Regions from separate parts of the Homo sapiens genome. Here all the other regions are linked to region 1. Evidence: fine-mapped expression QTL. A gene starts in region 1. Each other region holds a variant in brackets. All regions are shown on one strand. Distances are between the middles of the regions.

Region 1 (2,691 bases):
GGGTGGGGCAGGAGTCTGAATTCTTTTTCTCCTATACTGATGAGCGATAATTAACTATGGCCTGGACTGTCTTTCCATCTAAAAAACTAACTGCCCGAGGAGTAAAAACTGACACCAATCCTTCTCCACGGGGTGGGAGAGATAATAAATGGAAATCTTCCAACAAAAATGCTCTTTATCTCTCTGCTCTATTTTAAGAGCAAGATTTTTAGGGCATAATTTTCAACAAGTTTTGGCTGAGGCTGAACACAGGGTTCAAAGATAATTTAGGACAGTCAAAGAAGAGGCCAATTACTTTCTAACAGAAATGGCCTAAACACCACGATTACATTACTGGGAAATAAACCAAATGACTGCTAGAAATACCTGTTCGCAAAGCAGCACTGCATGATCTTCCATGAAATGCCCTGCATCAACCCAAAGTAGCAGGGAGACTATCAAGGGGGCGAAAGTAACCTGCCTGTCCTTTCCTGCTGGGACACATCCTACCTGGGACAATGTCTCCTTGCCTTCTTTCTCCTGGGCCCAACCTCAGGACTTGCCCTTAGCTCTAGGAACCAAGAGGAGGAGGAGGGGGAATCAGTGGAACAGACACCCTTCTCCACCCTTCTCACTTTCCACCTTAAGGTGCCAGGAGATGAGGGACCCCGCAGCTCAGGGCGGACGCCCGGTGAGGGCGCAGAATCGGGGAGGATGGATGCAGCGCGTGGCGCAGACTGCATCTTGACCCTCAACTCCGCCGCCGCTACCTTCTTTCGCGCTCCTCCCCGACCCGCTCACCTCCGCGCCCCCCGCGCCCTCCACGCCGGGCAGGGGCGAGCCTTGCAGCTCCCCGGGAGCGGCGCCGACTCCCCAAGGGCCCACCCGGGGGCCAGGGCCTACGGACTGCACCTCCGACTGGCGGTTGCAGGGTGGCTGCCGCGGCGGTCGCACTCCAGCTGCTTCCCCGCCTACCCAAGCTGGATCGCGAACAGCCAGGGGAGAAGGAAGGAGGGAGGCGCGCGGAGGCCGGCTTGGCAGCGACGCGCCGCTAGGGGCTGCGTGCCCGGACAGCTCGTGGCGCCGAGGGCCCGAGGAACGCTGACTGGAGTCGGGAAGAGCCGTGGAGCGCGGGGAGGAGTCGGGGAGCTCGGAGGGGGCGGGGGTGTGTGAAGGGAGCCGGGCTGTGTGGAGGGAGCTGGGAAGGGCCCAGAGCACCGAGGGGGAGCCAGCAGTGAGTGCACTGGGGAGCTCCACACACGCGGCTCCGCAGCTTTGCGCGCCCTTCTACCGCGAGCGGCTGAGTATCCGCCTGGCTCCCCTGCGGGGTTCCTCCGTGGTCTTCCGGAGATTCTTTCTGAAGCAGCTTTAGAATAGTCAAGCCTATTTTTCTACTCCATTTCTTTTTGTAATGTGGGGTCACCTTTCCGCTCTAGAAATTGCTTTTCTTACGCGATTCCCACCCCAACTCTCGCCAAGGGCCCTGGTTCTCATCTCCCCAGTCTTAGCTTCTGACAAGCCTCCAAGAAACTGCGCTTTTTTCTTTTGTAAGTGTTCTTTTGCCTCATGTTTACCCTATCCCAAACGTCTTTTGACTAGACTGTGTCCTTGGAATAAAATGTTCGGAAATGCCCTTTCATGAAAACTCCCTCGGATAGGAGGACCCTCACAGACCCTGGACTGCAGAGATTATTCTGTTGACTTTGACCTTCACTCTAGCTGGTGCCGCGCGAGCTTTGGTGTGGGGGAAAGGAAGGTTAGGCCGTGAGTCAGGAGACCTGTGTTCCTGCGAAAGCCATTTACCTTCTGGGGCCGCAATGGCTTTGAATGTTTCAGGGGATCCCCTGAGAGCACCTTTGGCTCTGGGTTTCTGTAAATTTTCTCCCTGCGGATTACCAAGTAAAAGTACCTTTTATCTTTTGTGTAGAAGGTGTCAGTAGAAGAAGCAAGAGATCTTTATTCCCAAATATAAAATCAACTTACCAAAAATTCTCAAATTTGGGGAAATTTTTTTCATACATTAGTAAAGTACCATTTCAACAAATTAAGTTTAAAAATTATCCCTCTAGGTGGTTTATTAACCAGACCAAAAAAACCCAACAACAACAACAACGAGAGGGGGGTCTTAGATCGATCACTGGGGCACTGCACTTTCCCCTTTGTAGTCCATACACAGATTAACCTTTGTAAATGCTGCTTTGGAAATACATCCTTTGTTTGACTTGAAATGTAACCCCTCCCCTACCGCCAAATATTATTAAGGTTTAAAGTTTAGGCAGAAGCTAAGGTTTTAACGATGTGTCAGGGTGTGGAACCATCGACAGCTGGTAGAATACTTTCCATTTTGGTTACTGGAAACAAGTCATTAAATCTAATATCAATTTTAATAATTTCACTTCAACAAAACTGTCAAATAATGAGATTCGTGGAGTTTTTTCTAGTAGTTCCTCTGGAGAACTTGTGGAGAAAATTCATGAATCTTAGCAGTTAACGGAAAGTATATTGCTTTTCCATATATTTTAAAAAACTATAGAATTATATAACTTCCCCACGGGGATATTAAAAGAAATTGCACTTTCTAACTTCTATAACCATAAATTATCATGTAAAACATGTAGGTAAGCCATATATTTTAAATATGTTTAAAAGCTCTCTTAACATGGGCTTTGACTATTGAGAAAATAGATAAAGTAATGTGAAATCCCTTTTCCT
Region 2 (2,691 bases), 26 kb before region 1:
CGTCTTCTCCCTTTTACTTCACGTGGTCTTCCCTCTGTGCATGCCTGATTCCTAATCTCCTCTTCTTATGAGGACACCAGTCATACTGGATTAGGGCCCAACTGTATGACCTCACTTTACCTCTTTAAAGATCCTATCTCCAAATACATTCTGAGGTAGTGTGGGAGTTAGGATTTCAATGTATCAATTTTGAGGAAACACAGTTCAGCCCATAACAGATCCCAGTATCTTTTGAATTATAACTTCAATTCTTATAAACAGCAGATTCAAGAATAAAGTATGTTTAATCAAGGCACAAATGGTATTCTCGCCTACAGGACACTGATATTTCACACAGTAGTGCTGAGTTACTATTTTGATTTAACAGTGTATGACTGTACATTTGATCAATGTGAATCTGCCCCTGAGGGGTTTTTCTACTCTCAGGGGTCTCAACAAATCTGGATTTTGAGTCTGCAGGGTCCCGTGCCTGACTTTCTCAAAGTCATCATTTGTCTCTTGTTTCACTTCCCATTAGAAGAATCCACTACCAAAAGTACTGTACTAGTCTAGGTTCCCCAAGCCTGCCATAAACAAACAACACCAACACTCACCTGCTGCCACTCTATGGGGAGTACTATCTCTGAGAAACAGAAGTGAGGAAAAACATGGAAGTGAGGCAGTAGGAGAAGGGAACACAAACACAGGTGTTAGTGAGCTTGTCATAGCTTTGCAACAAGTGCAGTTAATTGCTCGGTCTTTGAGGATATTTTCATGAAGGTCTTATGAATTATTGCACTTTAGAACAGCCTATCTGGGGGAAAGGAAGGGAGAATTTATCTACTAGCTTCATTTTGTGCTGTACCTCCTTGATCAAAGTTCACTCCTTAAGTAGGGTTGCCAGATTTAGAAAAATTTTAAAAAGCCCATGCTTATAATAAAAAGTAATTTATTGTTTGTCTGCAATTCAAATTTAACTGAGAGTCCTGTATTTTACCTGACAATCCTCCTCTCAGGATATTAGCACCTAAGCATTTCCAGGCAGCAGCTGGGGAAGCCAGAACCTCCACAGACAGATCTGGTGCACAGGCACAAAGGTCAGTTACTCCTTGTCAGTGGCACAGTGTACAGGACTCCTCAACATATAGCAGTGTGGTGGTGGTGGTAGTGGCAGCAGCAGCAGAAACTCTTTAGGACAACAGGGTAGCGCTAGGCCACTGGCCAGGAGGCAAGGCATGAGGAAGAGGCAAGAGGATGTAG[G/C]CATGGCTGCATGGATGCGGGATGATAAAAAACATAATTTTCTGTAAAAATGGGTAATTATTTATTATAATATCTCTTTAGTATCCATCATAGATCACATTATACTAGATACTGGGGATTTAGTAGTAAATAAGACAAAATTTCTGCTACGGGGAGTTTACAGAATAGCTTGAATATTGTGTGTGTTCTGATTTAAAGATGCTTAATGAATGCTAGTAAAATGAAATAATGTAATAAAATAAATGTAAATGGAGGTTTTTCTAAATGACTATTTTAGTAAAAACAAACAAAACCCCTCCATAACTATCACATGTATTGCTTTCTGGATGCTTCTGAAAAGAAATAACTCAGAAAAGTATTAGAAGGCCTCCATCAAATACTAGAATTATTATTTAATGAGAAAAAAATCCACGTGTATACAACATTTCAAAACAGAAGTTAAATCATTAAATAGTACTTTTTATTTAAATGTTTATAAGGCAGATCTATGAGAATGATAGAAAACATGGTGTGTAATTTGATAGCAATATTTTGGAGATTACAGAGTTTTAGTAATTACCAATTACACAGTTAAAAAGAAGATAATATATTCCAAGCAGATACAAAATATCTAATGAAAGATCAAGGCAGGAAAATGAGTATAACTAATTGACAATGGAAAATCAATTTTAATGTGAATTGCACATTATCCTTTAAAAGCTTTCAAAAGAAAGAATTATTGCAGTCTAGTTAATTCAGACAGTGTTAAATGGTATCAGGATAAAGAACTGAAGGGCAGAAAGAATTAATTTTCACTTCATGTAACACACCCAGATTTACAATGGCTTAAATGCAGGAAAAAGCAGTGGAAGTAGGGAAGTAGTCAAGGTCTTTCTGGTCTCTAATCTGCCTTACTCTTTGGGTGTGGCTTTGATCCTCTGGAGACAGCTGCCAGGGCTCCTGTTATATCCACAATCCCAGCAGCAAGATGAAGGGATGAAAAAGGACACATGCTGCCTTCCTTTGAGGAGACTTCATCTCACTGGCCAACACTCAGTCACATGTACACCTAACTGCAAGGACAGCTGAGGAATGTAATGGGCAGCCGCTTTTAAAGAAGTAGAGTCAATAGGAAGACAAATTCCAGTTCCAGCTCAGTCTGGGTATCTGCAAAGCTGCAAAAGATCTTTAAAGACAATTTCAAGAGAATATTTCCTTAAAGTTGGCAATTTGGAGATCATACAAAAGCATCTGCTTTTGTGATTTAATTTAGCTCATCTGGCCACTGGAAGAATCCAAACAGTCTGCCTTAATTTTGGATGAATGCATGATGGAAATTCAATAATTTAGAAAGTTAAAAAAAACTCAGTATGTTAGGCTGAACAAAACATTTTTTAGTAACATATGGAAAGAATCTCTGAAAATTAAGCACTGTATAATTTTCTCATACTAAAAAAAAAGTGAAGAACCCAT
Region 3 (2,691 bases), 450 kb after region 1:
TTTGAAGTTTTGTAAGAATTAGTAAAACATGACCTAGAGGTATGAAATGAGCATATATTTGGAGAAATGGAGCTAACAGATTTGCTTGAAGTAGGGTTGCAACAAACCTTCAATTTGTAAAAAAAAAAAAAAAAAAAAAAAAAAATGCAATATTTGTGAAATGAAAAAAAGTGAAGCACAAATAAAATGAGATATACCTGTATTTGTCCTTTGTGAAAGGCTTACTTCACTTAGTATAATGTCCTGTAGGTTCATCAAGTTGTTCCATATGACAGGATTTCCTTATTTTTTTAAGGCTGAATAATACTCTATTGTATGTTTATATCACATTTTCTTTACTTACCTGTCAGTGGATGTTTTACATTGTTTTGATATTTTGGCTATTGCGAATGATGATGTAATAAATATGGGAGTGCAGATATCTTTTCAAGATTCTGATTTCAATTATTTTTAATTTATATCTAGAAGTGAAATTGCTGGATTATATGGTATATCTGGTTTGAATTTTTTGAAAAACATCCATACAATTTTCCATATTGGCTGCTCTATTTTACACTACCACCAGCAATGTGCAAGGGGCCAATTTCACAACATCCTCACCAACACTTACTTTTTTCTTAAAAAAATAGTCATAATAACAAGTATGGGGTAGTATGTCATTATGGCTTTAATTTGCAATTCTCTGAAAATTGATTGGTGATGTTGATTACCTTTTCATATACCTGTTGGCCATTTGTATGTCTTCTTTGGAGAAATGTCTATCCAAGTTCTTTGTCCATTTATTAATCAGTTTATTTGTTTTGTGCTATTGAGCTATGAGAGTTTTATGTATTTTGGATATTAACCCCTTTTCAGAAATATGGTTTGCAAAATATATTATGAAACCACTGTAATGAAAACAGTATGGTACTGGCATAAAGGCAATATGTAGACAAATAGAACAGAATAGCTAGTTCAGAAATAGACCCACACATACATAGCCAACTATTCTGCAACAAATGTGCTAAGAATACACAATTGGGATAGGATTGTTTTTTTCAACAAATGGTATTAGAAAAACTGAATATCCACCTACAAAAGAGTAAAATTTGATCCTTATCTTACATTATACAAAAAAAAACTTAAAATAAAGATTTGAATATAAGACCTGAAATTATAAAACCGCTAATAGAAAACATAGGGGAAAATCCTCTTGACACTGTCTTGGCAATAATTTCTTGGGTCTATACCAAAAGCACAGGCAATAAAAGCAAAAATAAGGAAGTGGGATTATATCAAACTTAAATGCTTTTGCACAGCAAAGGAAACAATACAGTGAAAAAGCAATGGAAAAAAATATTTACAAACCATGTATCTGATAAGTGGTTAATACCTCGTTGTGATTTTTATTTGCATTTCCCTAATGACTAATGATGTTAAAGCATCTTTTCAGGTGCTTATTGGTCATTTGCATATTTTCTTTGGGAAAACCTCTATTCAAATCCTTTTCAAAAAAATCTCTATTCAAATCCCATTTTGTTTGAGTTATTTGT[C/T]TTTATTGTTGAGATGTAAGAGTTGTTAATATATCCTGGGTACTAGTTCCTTACCAGATATGTACTTTACAAATATCTATTCCCTTATATGGGCTGTCTTTTCACTTTCTTGATAGTGATGTTTGAATCACAAAATATTTTAATTTTATTGAAGCACAATTCACTTTTTTTTTCTTTTGTTGCTTGTGATTTTGGTGTTATGTCTAAGAAATTGTTGACAAATCAAGGTCATGAAGATTTACCTATTTTCATTTGTGAGTTTTACAGTTTTAGAAGTTGCATGTAAGTCTGCAATCTACTTTGAGTTCATTTTTGTTTATGGTGTGAGGGAGCTTTTCCAATTTTATTCTTTTATATATCAATATCCATTTGTCCCAGCACCATGTGTTAAAAAGACTCTTCTTTCTCTGTTGAATTGTCTTGGCACCCTTGTCAAAAATCAATCATAAACATAAGGATTTATTTTTGTACTCTCAATTCCATTCCATTAATCTCTATTTCTGTCTTTATGTCAATACCATATTGTTTTGATTGTTGTAGTTTTGTAGGTAGGTAACAAAATTGGGAAGGGTGAGTTCTCCAAATTTGTCCCTTTTTTTTTCAAATTGTTTTCCCTATTCTGGATTTTTCTAACTCCATATGAATTTTAGAATCAGCTTTCGGCCAGGTGTGGTGGCTCACGCCTGTAATCCCAGCACTTTGGGAGGCCAAGGCGGGTGGATCATGAAGTCAAGAGATTGAGACCGTCCTGGCCAACATGGTGAAACCCCGTCTCTACTAAAAATACAAAAATTAGCTGGGTGGTTTGTAGTCCCAGCTACTCAGGAGGCTGAGGAAGTAGAATAGCTTGAACCTAGGAGGCAGAGGTTGCAGTGATTTTGATAAAAATTACATTGAATCTGTAGATCAATTTGGGGATTATTAGTATCGTAACAATATTAAGTCTTCCAATTCACAAACACTAATAAATGATTGTTAATTTTTAAAAAGTTTTTTCAATGCTTTATCATTTTCAATGTCCGAGTCTTACACTTCCTCGATTACTTATTTCTAAGAATTCTGTTATTTTTGATGCTATTGTAAGTGCGATTGTTTATTGATTTCATTTTTAGATTGTTTATTGACAGTGCATCAAAATACAATTGATTTTTGAGAACTG
Region 4 (2,691 bases), 25 kb after region 1:
GAGTTTGGTTACATTATGTTACTTTGTGAAAAATAATTTTATGAAAAATGTGAAATTGTACTTTACCCCACAAAAATCAATTCTAATAAAATAAAATACTTATTATGAAAAGGAAAACTTGAAAACATAGAAAAATATCTATTTATCTATCTCTATCTATCTATCTATCTATCTATCTATCTATCTATCATCTATCTATCTATAATATTTTCAAATGGCACAATCATGGCTTCCTGCAGCCTGGAACTCCTGGGCTCAAGTGATCCTCTCACTTGGGCCTCTCATAGTGCTGGGATTACAGGCATGAGCCACTGTACCTAGCCAGGATAGGTCTATTAAATAAGACACATACAGTAATATGAACTAGCAGAGGAAAAAATGTATCCATTTGACATTAAAATTAAAAACTCTCTATAATGAATGGAAACCATAGAGGAACTGAAAAAGGTTAGTCACATTGTGAAAAGATATTTGTTATATATCATAAACCAAAAGTTCAGGATGGTGTGTACCTCTCAGGGTTGGGATGGGAAGCCAGTTATAATAAGGCAGGGCACTTAGGGGAGCTCTGAACACTGTTTTATTTCTTAAGCTGGGTGTCTGGTACATGAGTGTTCATTTTATTATTATTATTTTAATTGTGTATACATATTTCATACACATTATATATGATATAATTTAATTTTCTAATGAAATAAAATTTAATTCCAAATGACTTGACCAGTAAAAGAAGTGTATTAGTTTCATAATTGAAAGATCCAGTGATGAGGAAGCTTCAGATATGGTTTGATCCAGAGTCCACCCCTATGGCTAGGGAAGAGGTAATTTTCCTTCAGAGCACATAGACTGGATTGGGAAAGGATGAATACTAGAATAAAGACTCACTGAAAGAGAGAGTCTAAGCAGGAAAAGTTAAGAAATGTATAGAGCCACAAAGCATTAAACAGGTGCCAAAAATAGTTGTTAGTATTTCTCATCTTATACTCAACTTTTAAAATCCTTGTTTTTCCTGTGACTTTTGCTAACTTGGATTGCTAGCTGGAATGAAGCATTAAGATGAATAATGATTTTATTATACCCCCTAATCATTTTGTACTCATCACATTTCAACTTATGCTTTAACTTTTTGCCAAAAAGATATTTTGATACAATAATAAGCCCTCTTTTTAAGTGTGATAATGTTTGAATGTAG[T/C]GTTAAAACCTGTTAAAATACTCATTGCTGATCACTCATAAAAAGAAAAATTTGTTAAGTGACTTCTGTGCCTGTGTTCTTGTATTCCAGATGTGTCTACAGGTCATAATTATGGCCACAGTGATTTTTAATGTAATTGCAACTTTTAATTTATTTTATGTTACTTTATTATTACCTTAATTTTTCATATTTTTTCAGCTTTTGAATGTTATTCTAATATAAAACCTTTCCCAAGCTAATTAGGATGATCACAGCTTATCATTTATTCAGAATAATTATGGAATTATTTAGATAATTGTCCAATAGTTTTTAAAAATTATTCATGATTATTATTTCTTTAAGATCTCTTAAATAGATTGCGTGCTATTTAATTTTATGTTTTCTTCATGATGCAGCGTCATTAGGAATGTAGATTACTTTGTTACAATTACAATAATTTGTGATGCAAGTAGCTGTTTGCTTATGTACTTAAGGGAACTACTCTAACTGGTGAAGAGTAGGATGAAGCATCCATGTCCCTACAAAGGATATGAACTCATCCTTTTTTATGGCTGCATAGTATTCCATGGTGTATATATGCCACATTTTCTTAATCCAGTCTATCATCGATGGATATTTGGGTTGGTTCCAAGTCTTTGCTATTGTGAATAGTGTCGCAATGAACATACATGTGCATGTGTCTTTATAGCAGCATGATTTATAATCCTTTGGGTATATACCCAGTAATGGGATAGCTGGGTCAAATGGTATTTCTAGTTCTAGATCCTTGAGGAATTGCCACACTGTCTTCCACAATGGTTGAACTAGTTTACAGTCCCACCAACAGTGTAAAAGTGTTCCTATTTCTCCACATCATCTCCAGCACTTGTTGTTTCCTGACTTTTTAGTGATCCACATTCTAACTGATGTGAGATGGTACCTCATTGTGGTTTTGATTTGCATTTCTCTGATGGCCAGTGATGATGAGCATTTTTTCATGTGTCTGTTGGCTGCATAAATGTCTTTTTTTGAGAAGTGTCTGTTGATATCCTTTGACCACTTTTTGATGGGGTTGTTTTTTTCTTGTAAATTTGTTTGAGTTCTTTGTAGATTCTGGATATTAGCCCTTTGTCAAATGAGTAGATGGCAAAAATTTTCTCCCATTCTGTAGGTTGCCTGTTCACTCTGATGGTAGTTTCTTTTGCTGTGCGGAAGCTCTTTAGTTTAATTAGATCCCATTTGTCAATTTTGGCTTTTGTTGCCATTGCTTTGGTGTTTTAGACATGAAGTCCTTGCCCATGCCTATGTCCTGAATGGTAATGCCTAGGTTTTCTTCTAGGGTTTTTATGGTTTTAGGATTAACATTTAAGTCTTTAATCCATCTTGAATTAATTTTTCTACAAGGTGTAAAGAAGGGATCCAGTTTCAGCTTTCTACATATGGCTAGCCAGTTTCCCTAGCACCATTTATTAAATAGGGAATCCTTTCCCCATTTCTTGTTTTTATCAGGTTTGTCAAAG

Alleles and levels. Positions count from the first base shown, and alleles are read on the strand shown. Sizes are in standard deviations (SD) of each study's normalised expression. Not every link is listed here.
With allele C in place of T in region 4, the expression in stomach of the gene that starts at base 1,086 in region 1 is lower (small effect, 0.35 SD a copy in GTEx).

Evidence for each region. PIP is the estimated chance that this variant, and not a neighbour inherited with it, causes the effect.
Region 2: its variant is the best candidate, but not a certain one, in a credible set for the expression of STEAP2 in cerebellum (GTEx, PIP 0.82).
Region 3: its variant is the best candidate, but not a certain one, in a credible set for the expression of STEAP2 in putamen (GTEx, PIP 0.64).
Region 4: its variant is the best candidate, but not a certain one, in a credible set for the expression of STEAP2 in stomach (GTEx, PIP 0.56).

The regions. Positions count from the first base shown.
Region 1 is chr7:90,210,135-90,212,825 of GRCh38, reverse strand. STEAP2 (STEAP2 metalloreductase) reads right to left here and starts at 1,086. Exons shown (of 6, transcript NM_001244944.2): 1 at 781-1,086. It overlaps STEAP2-AS1 (STEAP2 antisense RNA 1), which reads left to right and starts at 1,191. Exons shown (of 3, transcript NR_110029.2): 1 at 1,191-1,526. RefSeq lists a silencer at 924-983.
Region 2 is chr7:90,236,604-90,239,294 of GRCh38, reverse strand. STEAP2 (STEAP2 metalloreductase) reads right to left here. Exons shown (of 6, transcript NM_001244944.2): 6 at 1,612-2,691. It overlaps LOC107986819 (a long non-coding RNA gene), which reads left to right. Exons shown (of 2, transcript XR_007060423.1): 2 at 1-1,708. Among named protein-coding and RNA genes, the nearest start is that of CFAP69, 7.2 kb to the left of the region's middle. The variant G/C (reference allele first, on the strand shown) is at 1,240.
Region 3 is chr7:89,764,268-89,766,958 of GRCh38, reverse strand. No RefSeq gene overlaps it. Among named protein-coding and RNA genes, the nearest start is that of STEAP1, 390 kb to the left of the region's middle. The variant C/T (reference allele first, on the strand shown) is at 1,533.
Region 4 is chr7:90,185,522-90,188,212 of GRCh38, reverse strand. The region is part of intron 2 of STEAP2-AS1 (STEAP2 antisense RNA 1); the gene reads left to right. Among named protein-coding and RNA genes, the nearest start is that of STEAP2-AS1, 25 kb to the left of the region's middle. The variant T/C (reference allele first, on the strand shown) is at 1,193.